Linked DNA regions of Homo sapiens. The protein of the gene in region 1 purifies or fractionates together with the protein of each later gene. This does not show direct contact. Each region holds a gene or a part of one and is shown on either strand. Other genes may lie near its edges.

Region 1 (3,648 bases):
CCCAGGTACTATGTTGAGAGCCTTGGATGAGACTCCGAGACTTGCTGGCTTCAGGTACCAGCACAGCTACAGAAGGGTAGAACACCAAGTGGGCTCTTGGAATCCGTGATTCCAGGACTTGACTCTTGGATAACACTTCTGGAACTGCCCTAGGCCAGAGGGGAGCTCACTGCTCTGAAGGGTGAGTCTCAGACCAGGCAGCATTCATCCCAAGCTGACTTAAGAGCCCCTGAGCCTCAAGGGAACATCTATGGTAGTCCAACAGTACTCTACCTGGCCTAGGATGACTGGCTATGGGGTGAGGCTCCTCTGCCTTTGGAAAGGGAAGGGAAGAGTGGGAAGGACTGCATCTTGTGGTATGAGTGCCAGCTCAGCCATAATACAATAGAACACCAGGTAGACTTCTAAGGTTTTTGACTCTAGGTCCTGAGTCCCAGATGTCACTTCTGGACACACCTCTGGCTTGGGGGACCTTGCCACCGTGAAGGAAAGGACACAGGCCTGGCTGGTTTTGCTACTGGCTGATTGTAGAGATTCAGGGCCTTGAGCAAGCTGGGCAGTAGCCGGGAGTATTTGCAGCAGGCCTTGAGTGAAACCCAGAGCTGTGCTGGCTTCGGGTCTGACCCAGCACAGTCATAGTGGTGGCGGCCACAGGGGTGCTTGTGTCACTCCACCCCAGCTCTGGGTGGCTCAGAACAGAGACACTCTGTTTGTTTAGGAGAAAATAAGGGAAAAGAACAAGAGTCTCTGCCTGGTGATCCAGAGAATTCTCCCAGATCCTGTCCAAAACCATCAAGGCGGTACCTCTATGAGTTTGCAAGAACCATAGCGTTACTGGGCTTGCGATGTCCCCTAAAGTAGAAACTGCTTAGATCACAACACTGCAGTCCTTTCAAATATCTGGAAAGCCTTCCCCAAAAGGATGAGTACAAAGAAGCCCAGACAGTGAAGACTACAATAAATACCTAACCCTTCAATGCCCAGACACTGAAGAACATCTACTAGTATCAACAGCATCCAGGAAAACATGACCTCACCAAATGAACTAAATAAGGCACTAAGGACGAGTCCTGGAAAAACAGAGATATGTGACCTTTCAGACAGAGAATTCCAAATAGCTGTGTTGAGGAAACTCAAATAAATTCAAGCAAAGACAGAAGGAATTCAGAATTCTATCAGATAAATGTAACAAAGACATAGAAATGATTTAAAAGTGTCAAGCAGAAATTCTGGAACTGGAAAAATGCCATTGGCATACTGAAGAATGCAGAGTCCTTTAATAGCAGAATAAATCTAGCAAAATAAAGAATTAGTGAGCTTGAAGAAAGGCTATTTGAAAATATACAATCAGAGGAGACAAAAGAAAAAACAAACAAACAATGAAACACACCTACAGGATCTAGAAAATAGCCTCAAAAGGGCAAATCTAAGAGTTATTGGCTGTAAAGAGGATGTAGAGAAAGAGATAGGGGTAGAAAGTTTATTCAAAGGGGTTGGGAGTGGTGGCTTACGCCTGTATTCCCAGCATTTTGGGAGGCCGAGGCAGGTGGATCACTTGATGTCAGGAGTTTGAGAACAGCCTGGCCAACATGGTTAAACCCCACCTCTACTAAAAACACAAAAATTAGCTGTGTGTGGTGGTGCTCACCTGTAATCCCAGCTACTTGGGAGGCTGAGGCAGGAGAATCGTTTGAACCTGGGAGGCTGAGGTTGCAGTGAGCCAAGAGTGCCACTGCACTCCAGCCTGGGTGACAGAGCAAGTTTATTCAAAGAGATAATAAAAGAGAAGTTCCTGAGGTGAGCGGATCACAAGGTCAGGAGTTCAAAACCAGCCTGGCCAACATGGTGAAACCCCGTCTCTACTAAAAATACAAAAATTAGCTGAGCATGGTGGCATGTACCTGTAATCCCAGTTACTCAGGAGGCTGAGGCAGGAGAATTGCTTAACGGGGACCTGGGAGGCAGAGGTTGCAGTGAGCCGAGATTACGCCACTGCTCTCCAGCCTGGGCTACAGAGCAACACTCTGTCAAAGAAAAAAAAAATAGTTCCCAAACCTAGAGAAAGATATCAATATCCAAGTACAAGAAGGTTATAGAACACCAAGCAGATTTAACCCAAAGAAGACTACCTCAAGGCATTTAATAATCAAACTCCTAAAGGTCAAGGATAAAGAAAGGATCCTAAAAGCAGCAAGAGAAAAGAGACAAATAACAAACAAGAGCTCTAATATGTCTGGCAGCAGCCCCTTCAGTGGAAACCTTACAGGCCAGGAGAGAGTGGGCTGATATAAAGTGCTGAAGGGAAAAACTTTACCTTAGAATAGCATATCCAGTGAGAATATGCTTCAAACATGAAGAAGAAATAAAAAGTTTCACAGACAAACAAAAGCTGAGGGATTTCATCAACACCAGACCTGTCCTACAAAAAATGCTAAAGGGAGTGCTTCAACCAGAAAGAAAAGACATTAATGAGTAATGAGTCATCATCTGAAGGTATAAAACTCACTGGTAATAGTAAGTACACAGAAAAACACAGAATATTATAATACTGTAACTGTGGTATATAAACTACTCTCATCCTAAGTAGAAAGACTAAACGATGAACCAATAAAAAATAACTACAACAACTTTTCAATACATAGGTAGTACAATAAAATATAAATAGAAAGAATGAATAAGACCTACTATTTGATAGCACAACAGGGTGACTATAGTCAATAATAACTATATGTTTTAAAATAAAGAGCGTAATTGGATTGTCTGTAACTCAGAGGATGAATGCTTAAGAGGATGGATAATCTCCATGATGTGCTTATTCCACATTGCAATTGCACGCATGCCTGTATCAAAACATCTCATGTACCCCATAAATATATACACCTACTATATACCCACAAAAATTACAAATAAATAATAAACAATTACAATAATAAGAAAAAAATCTGATTCTGATTTTCTTTGAAATGGCTGACATCTCCTGGGATTATAGGTGTGAACTACCACGCCCAGCATAAAACTTATTTTTAAAAATGTTTTTGAATTATCCACACCTTGGAATGTGTTGCAAGGTTTTTCTTTAAGTGAAATCATACGTAATTTTAATCCTTAGACTTTGTAGTTCCAGAGACCACCATTTGATTTGTTGGATTGTAATGGAATTGGGTAGATCTCACCAGCTACGACTTAGAGATGAAATCAAATTGCTGCTCAGCCTCTTCATATTGAAGAGAAAGCAAATGCCTATGAACCTGGGTAAGCTGTCTAAACGCCCTTCCAACATAGGCTATGAGGTTATGAAGAAAGCGTCCTTAATGCTACAGTATTTTTGCAGATTCTCATGTCCTTTTCCTTAGTTCTCAGAATATATCATTACAGAGACACGGGGCTTTGTTCATTCTGCTCTCTGTAATGATATTCTCCACTGAATCCACCTAGAGAACACTTAGCCAATCTCTCAAGGAGAGACATTTGATCCAGGCCTCACCAAAGAGCCTTAAATTTGAATTCTTGATATACTTACTCTCAGAAATAAACTGTCAGGACTGAAGAAAGACAGTATTCCTCACACAGTTTAAAACTGATCACACTGCTTGAGGTGCCATATGAATAATTACATTTTTATTTAAATTGCATAATTAATTTTCTTGT
Region 2 (3,748 bases), on another chromosome or scaffold:
GCAGAGGTTGCAGTGTGCCAAGGCTGTGCCACTGCACTCCAGCCTGAGCAATACAGTGAGACTCCCTCTCAAAAAAACAAACAAAAAAAACCCTTCTCACATTTAATCCCGCTCAACCAGGAATCACCATTCCAAGTGAGGAAACTGCCTAGTTCAGAACTCCCCTGGCCAGGGAAACAGAACCCAACAGTGGCAAGTGCCAGGTGTATCCAGCTGCAAGGCCCCTGTTCCTGTGGATCCACACATAACCACCCCCCATTCCTGCAGCCCCACCTACTGCCCAACACAAAACTCTGCACACACTAAAACCAAAAACATAGAGATCAAATAGACTACAGTGCAGTCCACCTGCAGTCAGAAACTGGCGGAGTGACCTCAGAGAGAGAAGAACCTGGGGTGGATCATTCTGTCGTTTCCAAAGGAACCTACAAAACGTGGATGGACTTAGAAGTGGCCAGAGGAGCCAGCACCAGCTTCACATCAGTCACTAGATGGAGATCTGAGAGAGCTTTCACAGTCAGTAGTTGAGGAAACAAATACTAATGTGTGCCCGTTACGAACCACAAGCCAGGTAAGTGCTGGCTGCGAATTATGAGGTGGTGGTGGCAGTTGTAGTTGATACAAGTGTCCAGGATGGGGAAGGAGGTGAGGGATACATTTCAGACATCAAGAGAAAAACCTAACCACAGGCATACGGGTGGTATTAATAAACATCTGCGGAATGGCCGGGCCGGTGGCTCACGCCTGTAATCCCAGCACTTTAGGAGGCCGAGGCGGGAGGATCACCTGAGGTCAGGAGTTCGAAACCAGCCTGACCAACACAGTGAAACTTCCATCTCTACTAAAAATACAAAAATTAGCCGGGCGTGGTGGTGCACACCTGTAGTCCCTGCTACTTGGGAGGCTGAGGCAGGAGAATCGCTGGAACCGGGGAGGCGGAGGTTGCAGTGAGCCGAGATGGCACCACTGCACTCCAGCCTGGGCGACAGAGCAACACCCCGTCTCAAAAAAAACATAAAAATAAAAATAAACATCTGCTGAGAGAACAAATGTCTGAGAAAACAATATCTAACATATTTACATCCTGGCTATTTACAAAGACATTTAAACTTAATGTGTGTTGGGAAACTATTGGGCAAAGTTCTCACTTCTTCATACAGATGAACTCAGCTCACGAAGGCTTGAAATGACTAACAACATTTAAGGGTCTAGGGGAAGTTTGGGAGACATGACTGCAAATCACCTCCATGGCTCCTCAGCCAGCTCAAGCACTTTCTTCTCCCTAAGGAAATAACCAATCTCCTGCCCAACACACCAGTTTTTCAAGCCCATGTAGGAGGCCAACTCAGCCAGCAATTAAATCGCGCTCAGCCCGCCGCTCAGTTCTCCGTGGCCTCGGGCAAGTCACTCTACCACTTCCAGCCTCAAGTTCCCCATCAGTAAAAGGTGGGTAACATGAATAGCTAGCAGACAACAGGACTGTAAAAGATTAAATGAGGCATCGTGTATATGAAAGGGCTCAGAAAACTTAAAACGCCGCACAAAGAGAGGCGAGTGTTAACAGGGGCCGCGTGCAGGGGGATTTGGGCTTGCGCCTCAGCTTCGGCGGTCGGAGCAAGTCACTTCCCCGCTACTAAACTTCGGTTGTCTCAACTCTAAGATGGGTGGAGACCAGGCAGCGCCGAGATCACGGAGCGGGGCCCAAATGCCAGTCCACACAGGCAAGGAGGCTGCGCCGCCGAGACCCCAGGACCCCGGAACGCGGGGGCCCCAGGGGGCAGCCCCTCAGGTCCACGAGGCGGCACCCTGTCCCCGCCGCGGCCCCGTCGGCCTCCCAGGGCCGCCAGAGGGACTGCGCCTCGGCCAGTGGGCGGGCGGTCGGGGCCACGGCGGGGACGGCGGCAGCCGGCCAATGAGGAGCGCGGCTGTGGTCGGGGGCGGGCGCACCCGGTCCTCCGCGTCGCTCCCGGATCGCTACCTCCCCCGCCTCGAGCTCCACTAGGCCGAGGACCCTAAACCCCGAAGAAAGGAAAGGCCTCTCACCGTCCTTTCGCCGCCGCCCCGCGCTTCCTGATGAGTTCGTCCAGGGAGATGTCCGCCATCTTGCTCCGCCGAGCAAGCCGAAAGCAGTCGAGACCCCGCGAGCCCGCCCCTTCGGCCGCTAGGGAGCGACGAACTACTTCCGGCGTCCGCGGACCAACTCTCGCGACAGCCAGCTCAAAGCAGGCAAGAACCGGAAGGGGCGGGGACGTTCCCCGTGAGCCTTCGCGGTGCTGGCTGCTCATCTGCATACGGAAGTTCGGCACATTATGAATTATTTATTTTCCTCGAGGGAAAAAATTAAATGAAAAGCAACAAAATACATTATTAACAAGTGAGACAAACTTCAATGGAACTGGATCATGACCTCAACAGTCAACTACGATAGTCATCATACGCCTAATGAGAATAGAATTCATTACCTAGGAAATAAACTAAAAACGTCCTTATGCCTTAAACTTATGAGTAAGGAAAATAACGATTCGGGGTGACGCCCGAATCCTCACTGCTAATGTGAGACGAATTTTTGAGCGGGTAAAGGTCGCCCTCAAGGTGACCCGCCTACTTTGCGGGATGCCTGGGAGTTGCGATCTGCCCGACCTTATTCACGCCTAAAAAGTAGACTGACTGTGGGGTGGTCGTGTTTTTTGTTTCTTGTTGGTAGGTGGTGAATGCGTTTTTTTCGTTGTTTTCTCCGTTACTCAGGCTGCCAGTTGCTTGGCAGTCTTGTCGCTGGCTGTGGACGCTCTGCACTTCATCACCGTCCCCAGCTGCGCTTTGAGCCGGTCTAAGGTTGCCCACAGTATTGACGTTGGGACCCACGAAACTGGCAATTTCCATGTGTGCGGCCTTACCCAGTTCTCCCAAACTTCTGCGTATAACCGCTTCTCTGTGCTTCAGAAAGATAAGTCCGGCCCCGGCCTCACACAGCAGCTCAGTTCGTGACAGCGTTTAATATGTAAAATGGAGCAAATAATTTATAGGGCGTTGGGAGAGTTAAAGAGACTAATTCATTTACGTGTTAAATACAGGGAATGGCTTTTGCATTGATATAACCCCAGCCTCCAGCATGCGCCAGACCTGACGTAGGTGTTCGGCACATATTTTGTCCAATCACTCTAAAAATACACTCCATGCCCTTAGAACAGGTGGGGTTATGTCCTCTTGGCCATCAGGCATCAGGAGCTCCGTGCAGAAACTGGGTAAGAGGCCAGGAGCGGTGGCTCATGTCTGTAATCTCAGCACTTTGGGAGGCTGAGGCGGGTGGATCACCTGAAGTCAGGAGGTCGAGACCAGCCTGGCCAACACGGAGAAACCCCGTCTCTACTGAAAAAAAAAAAAAGAAAGAAAAAAATTAGCCGGGCGCGGTGGCACGGCCTGAAATCCCACCTACTCAGGAGCCTGAGGCAGAAGAATCGCTTGAACTCGGGAGGCGGAGGTTGCGGTGAGCCGAGATCGCGCCATTGCACTCCAGCCTAGGCGACAGAGCAAGACTCCGTTTCAAAAAAAAAAAAAAAAGAAAGAAAGAAAGAAACTGGGTAAGAGCGATCCTGCAATCCTCCTGCCTCAGCCTCCTGAGTAGCTGGGATTACAGGCCCGCCCCACCACGCCGGGCTCCTTCCCAGACCTCTTTTCCTCACCCATAGAACGGGACCATTAAGCCTTTCCTCCCTTCCAGGCGTGCCAGGAGGAACGCGCAAGAGGTGGG
Region 3 (3,648 bases), on another chromosome or scaffold:
CGTCTGTTCCCATACTGCCAGAACTCCGGAACTGAGGCTGTCATCCTGTGTCTCCTTAGACCTGCTGAAACTCAGCCTGCTGGGACGAGTCTTCTTTCCCCCTTCTTGTTTCTGCCATGGAAGTGTGTGGACAGCCCCATTCATGATGACATGTGACACTACTGGCTTTTCCCGGCAGTCACACCCCCTGACCCAGGGCCTGCCAGCTTGGGTAAGTGGGGCCCATGCTTGACCCAAGCTTGAGGGCTGGAGTGTCCAAGGGCATGGAGAGTGCCTGTGAGTTCTGCCAGAGAATTTTCTCTCTGTCCTTTGAATCCTGTCATTGTTCTGTGTCTCATGTCCTGGCTATTACATATGTATCCTCAATCAGGGTTTCCAGAGGTCACAGCTGCTCTCCCAAAAGGCCAATGGCCCTGATTCTGGGTGGGATTCTGGAGCCTTAGAACTCTGGTTGGGATCTTTGTGTATGGAAATTCTCCAATTCTCAGATTCTTCATATCTGTCCCTCCATTCTACCTCTAACCGTGTCTAGACAGTGTTCTCCAGTTTGGGGAGATGGAATCTGTTAGCACCATCGAGCGTGTAAGGAAGAGAAAATATCAAAATCTGTCTGCCTTTCTTTCCTGGAGGCTGCTGAGTGAGTCAGAGCCGGGGGAGCAGTGTGGGGCCCCAAGGAAGGGAAGTGGAGAGGCTTGTGTTTAACTAAAATACCTTCTACTTTTTTAGTCCATCTAGGTGGGGGCTGGCTGGGGGCAGTTTCACAGGGAAGAAAACACTGGCATGAAGAGAGCCTGGGGGATCGAGAACAGCAACTTACCTGGCACTTTTTAAGACCAGAAAGGAATAAAAAATAATTTTTAAAAAGACAGAGCTGAGGCTGGGTGTGGTGGCTCAAGCCTGTAATCTCAGCACTTTGGGAGGCTGAGGTGGGCGGATCCCCTGAGGTCAGGAGTTCGAGACCAGCCTGGCCAACATGGAGAAACCCCACCTCTACTAAAACCACAAAATTACCTGGGCGTGGTGGCACATGCCTGTAATCCCAGCTACTCCGGAAGCTGAGGCAGGAGAATGGCTTGAACCTGGGAGGCAGAAGTTGCTGTGAGCCAAGGTCGCGCCATTGCACTCCAGCCTGGGCAGCAAGAGTGAAACTTGGTCTCAAAAAAAAAAAAAGACAGAGCTAAGTGGGTGGTGGACTTGAGGTTAGGTTTCAGCTGGGTGATCGTAGGCAAGTCTGGCGACCTCTCTGGGCCCTTTCCCTTCATCTCCATGAGGGAGATAACGATCATTCCTTCATTCTTGACTTTTGGAGTTGCTGGAGGGTTAATGAGAGAGGAGGTCCCCTGCTTTGCGAAAACAGATCTCATAGCAGGGTGAACAAGAGGCTTATGCCCCAAGCTACTACAAAATGGGGTCTCCTAATTGTACCCACTAAATAGGGTTGTGAGGAGGATGAGATGTATAAAACACAAGAAGCATGTGGCATAGCTCGAGATCTCACTCATGGGAAGACCTCACTGTTGGGCGTTTCTCTTTCTATTAAGAGTATGAAGGCAGTCAGCATAATATGCGTGTTCAACAGAAAAGAACCACAAAGCAAACAAATAATGAAAGCAGGTTGAGTGAGAAAAATGAGAATGGCTTCTTTTTATGGCATCTGGAAGGGTGGGGGAGGGGAAAGAAAAGGGACAAAGGGATGATTGGGTGGGGTTGGTGCCTAGGGCATGGGTTCCAAGGTCACTAACCAGCTTTGTGCTCCCAGGCACTCCTGAGCTGCATTGCTGTGTGACCTGCAGCAGGTTACTTGCCTTCTCTGTGCTAGATGCTTAGCACACACTTGTGATTAGGATCACCTGGGATGTGGGCAGGCTCTGCAGTGGGAAAACAGGGTAACAGGAGTGAGGGAATGTGAGGACGCTCCCACTGAGGCCTATTCAGGGAGGAGCATGTGTGGTGTGAATTTGGTGTCAAACCTGGTTTTAAGTCCTGACTTCGCCTCTTGCTTCCTGGGTGACTCCAGTTACTTGGCCTCTCTGAGCTGGTTTCCTTATCTGTGTAGCAGAGATCACTGCTTTTTGCCATTAAGTGCTGGCCTCTAGATTAGCTGTCAGGGGAAAGTCCTCCAGAGTGTTGATGCCTTTTCTACACCCTTGGAGCTGGAACGAACTTCAGGGATGGGCGTTTAGTCCACTCCCCTCGTCCAGAGCTCAGAGACGGGGAGAGGCAGGCCCAAGCCTGCCGGGTGAGGTCAGCAGAGGGCTGTCGTATGGAATCTGGGGCTCAGGACTCTGTCCCATTTCTCTAAACCATTCTGCTTCAACCCAGACACTGACTGTTTTCCAAATTTACTTGTTTGTTTGTTTTGTTTGTTTAGCAATTGCTTCTCCATTCTTGAAGTTCCTAACCCCCATGAATCCACAACCATAACCATGGCCACGCGGGTCGAGGTGGGCTCCATAACGCCCTTGACGGCCGTGCCAGGCCTGGGTGAGATGGGCAAGGAGGAGACCCTGACGAGGACCTACTTCCTCCAGGCCGGCGAAGCCTCTGGGGCTCCCCCAGCCCGGATCTTGGAAGCGAAGAGCCCCCTGCGGAGCCCGGCCCGGTTACTCCCTCTGCCAAGGCTCGCCCCCAAACCCTTCTCGAAGGAGCAGGACGTGAAATCTCCTGTCCCGTCTCTGCGGCCCAGTTCGACTGGACCTTCCCCCTCTGGGGGGCTCTCTGAGGAGCCAGCAGCAAAGGATCTGGACAACAGGATGCCCGGCTTGGTGGGGCAGGAGGTGGGCAGTGGGGAGGGCCCGAGGACGAGCTCGCCCCTCTTCAACAAGGCTGTGTTCCTGCGGCCCAGCTCCAGCACCATGATTCTCTTCGAAACCACCAAAAGCGGCCCCGCTCTGGGGAAGGCGGTTAGTGAGGGGGCGGAGGAGGCCAAGCTAGGTGTGTCCGGCTCCCGGCCTGAGGTGGCTGCCAAGCCCGCCCTGCCCACCCAGAAGCCTGCGGGGACCCTTCCCCGGTCAGCTCCCCTGTCTCAGGACACAAAACCACCTGTACCCCAAGAGGAGGCAGGCCAAGACCATCCTCCCTCAAAGGCCAGCAGTGTGGAGGACACGGCACGCCCCCTTGTGGAGCCCAGGCCTCGCCTGAAGAGAAGGCCCGTGTCTGCCATTTTCACGGAGTCCATTCAGCCTCAGAAGCCAGGCCCCGGCGCAGCGGCCACAGTGGGCAAAGTGCCACCCACCCCTCCCGAGAAGACGTGGGTGAGGAAGCCCAGGCCCTTGTCCATGGACCTCACGGCCCGGTTTGAGAACAAAGAGGCCTTGCTGAGGAAGGTGGCCGATGAAGGAAGTGGACCCACAGCAGGGGATATGGCTGGGCTAGAGAGGCCCAGAGCAGCGTCCAAGCTGGACAGGGACTGTTTGGTCAAGGCGGAGGCTCCTCTTCATGATCCTGATTTGGACTTCCTGGAGGTGGCCAAGAAAATCCGTGAACGGAAGGAGAAGATGCTTTCGAAGCCGGAGATGGGCAGCCCCAGAGCCCTGGTGGGGGGCTCATCTGGGGTCACCCCCAGCAATGACCAGAGTCCCTGGGAAGAAAAGGCCAAGCTGGACCCAGAGCCAGAGAAGGCTGCTGAGTCCCCCTCACCCAGGCTGG

What was found.
Region 2: the proteins of LUZP4 (region 1) and POLDIP3 purify together in Homo sapiens (affinity purification with mass spectrometry, with the first as the bait; one large-scale study listed by BioGRID). This does not show direct contact.
Region 3: the proteins of LUZP4 (region 1) and KIAA1671 purify together in Homo sapiens (affinity purification with mass spectrometry, with the first as the bait; one large-scale study listed by BioGRID). This does not show direct contact.

Annotation. Positions count from the first base shown.
Region 1 is NC_000023.11:115,296,210-115,299,857, reverse strand, and holds part of LUZP4 (leucine zipper protein 4), read right to left. Parts: intron 1-3,648. UniProt on the Homo sapiens protein: Export adapter involved in mRNA nuclear export in cancer cells. Binds and enhances the RNA-binding activity of the nuclear RNA export factor NXF1. Can restore mRNA export function in cells compromised by loss of mRNA export adapters.
Region 2 is NC_000022.11:42,612,756-42,616,503, forward strand, and holds the start of POLDIP3 (polymerase delta-interacting protein 3), read right to left. Parts: upstream 2,129-3,748; 5' UTR 2,103-2,128; coding exon 2,044-2,102; intron 2,025-2,043; exon of another isoform or gene 1-2,024. UniProt on the Homo sapiens protein: Is involved in regulation of translation. Is preferentially associated with CBC-bound spliced mRNA-protein complexes during the pioneer round of mRNA translation. Contributes to enhanced translational efficiency of spliced over nonspliced mRNAs.
Region 3 is NC_000022.11:25,025,574-25,029,221, forward strand, and holds part of KIAA1671 (uncharacterized protein KIAA1671), read left to right. Parts: intron 1-59; 5' UTR 60-211; intron 212-2,371; 5' UTR 2,372-2,426; coding exon 2,427-3,648.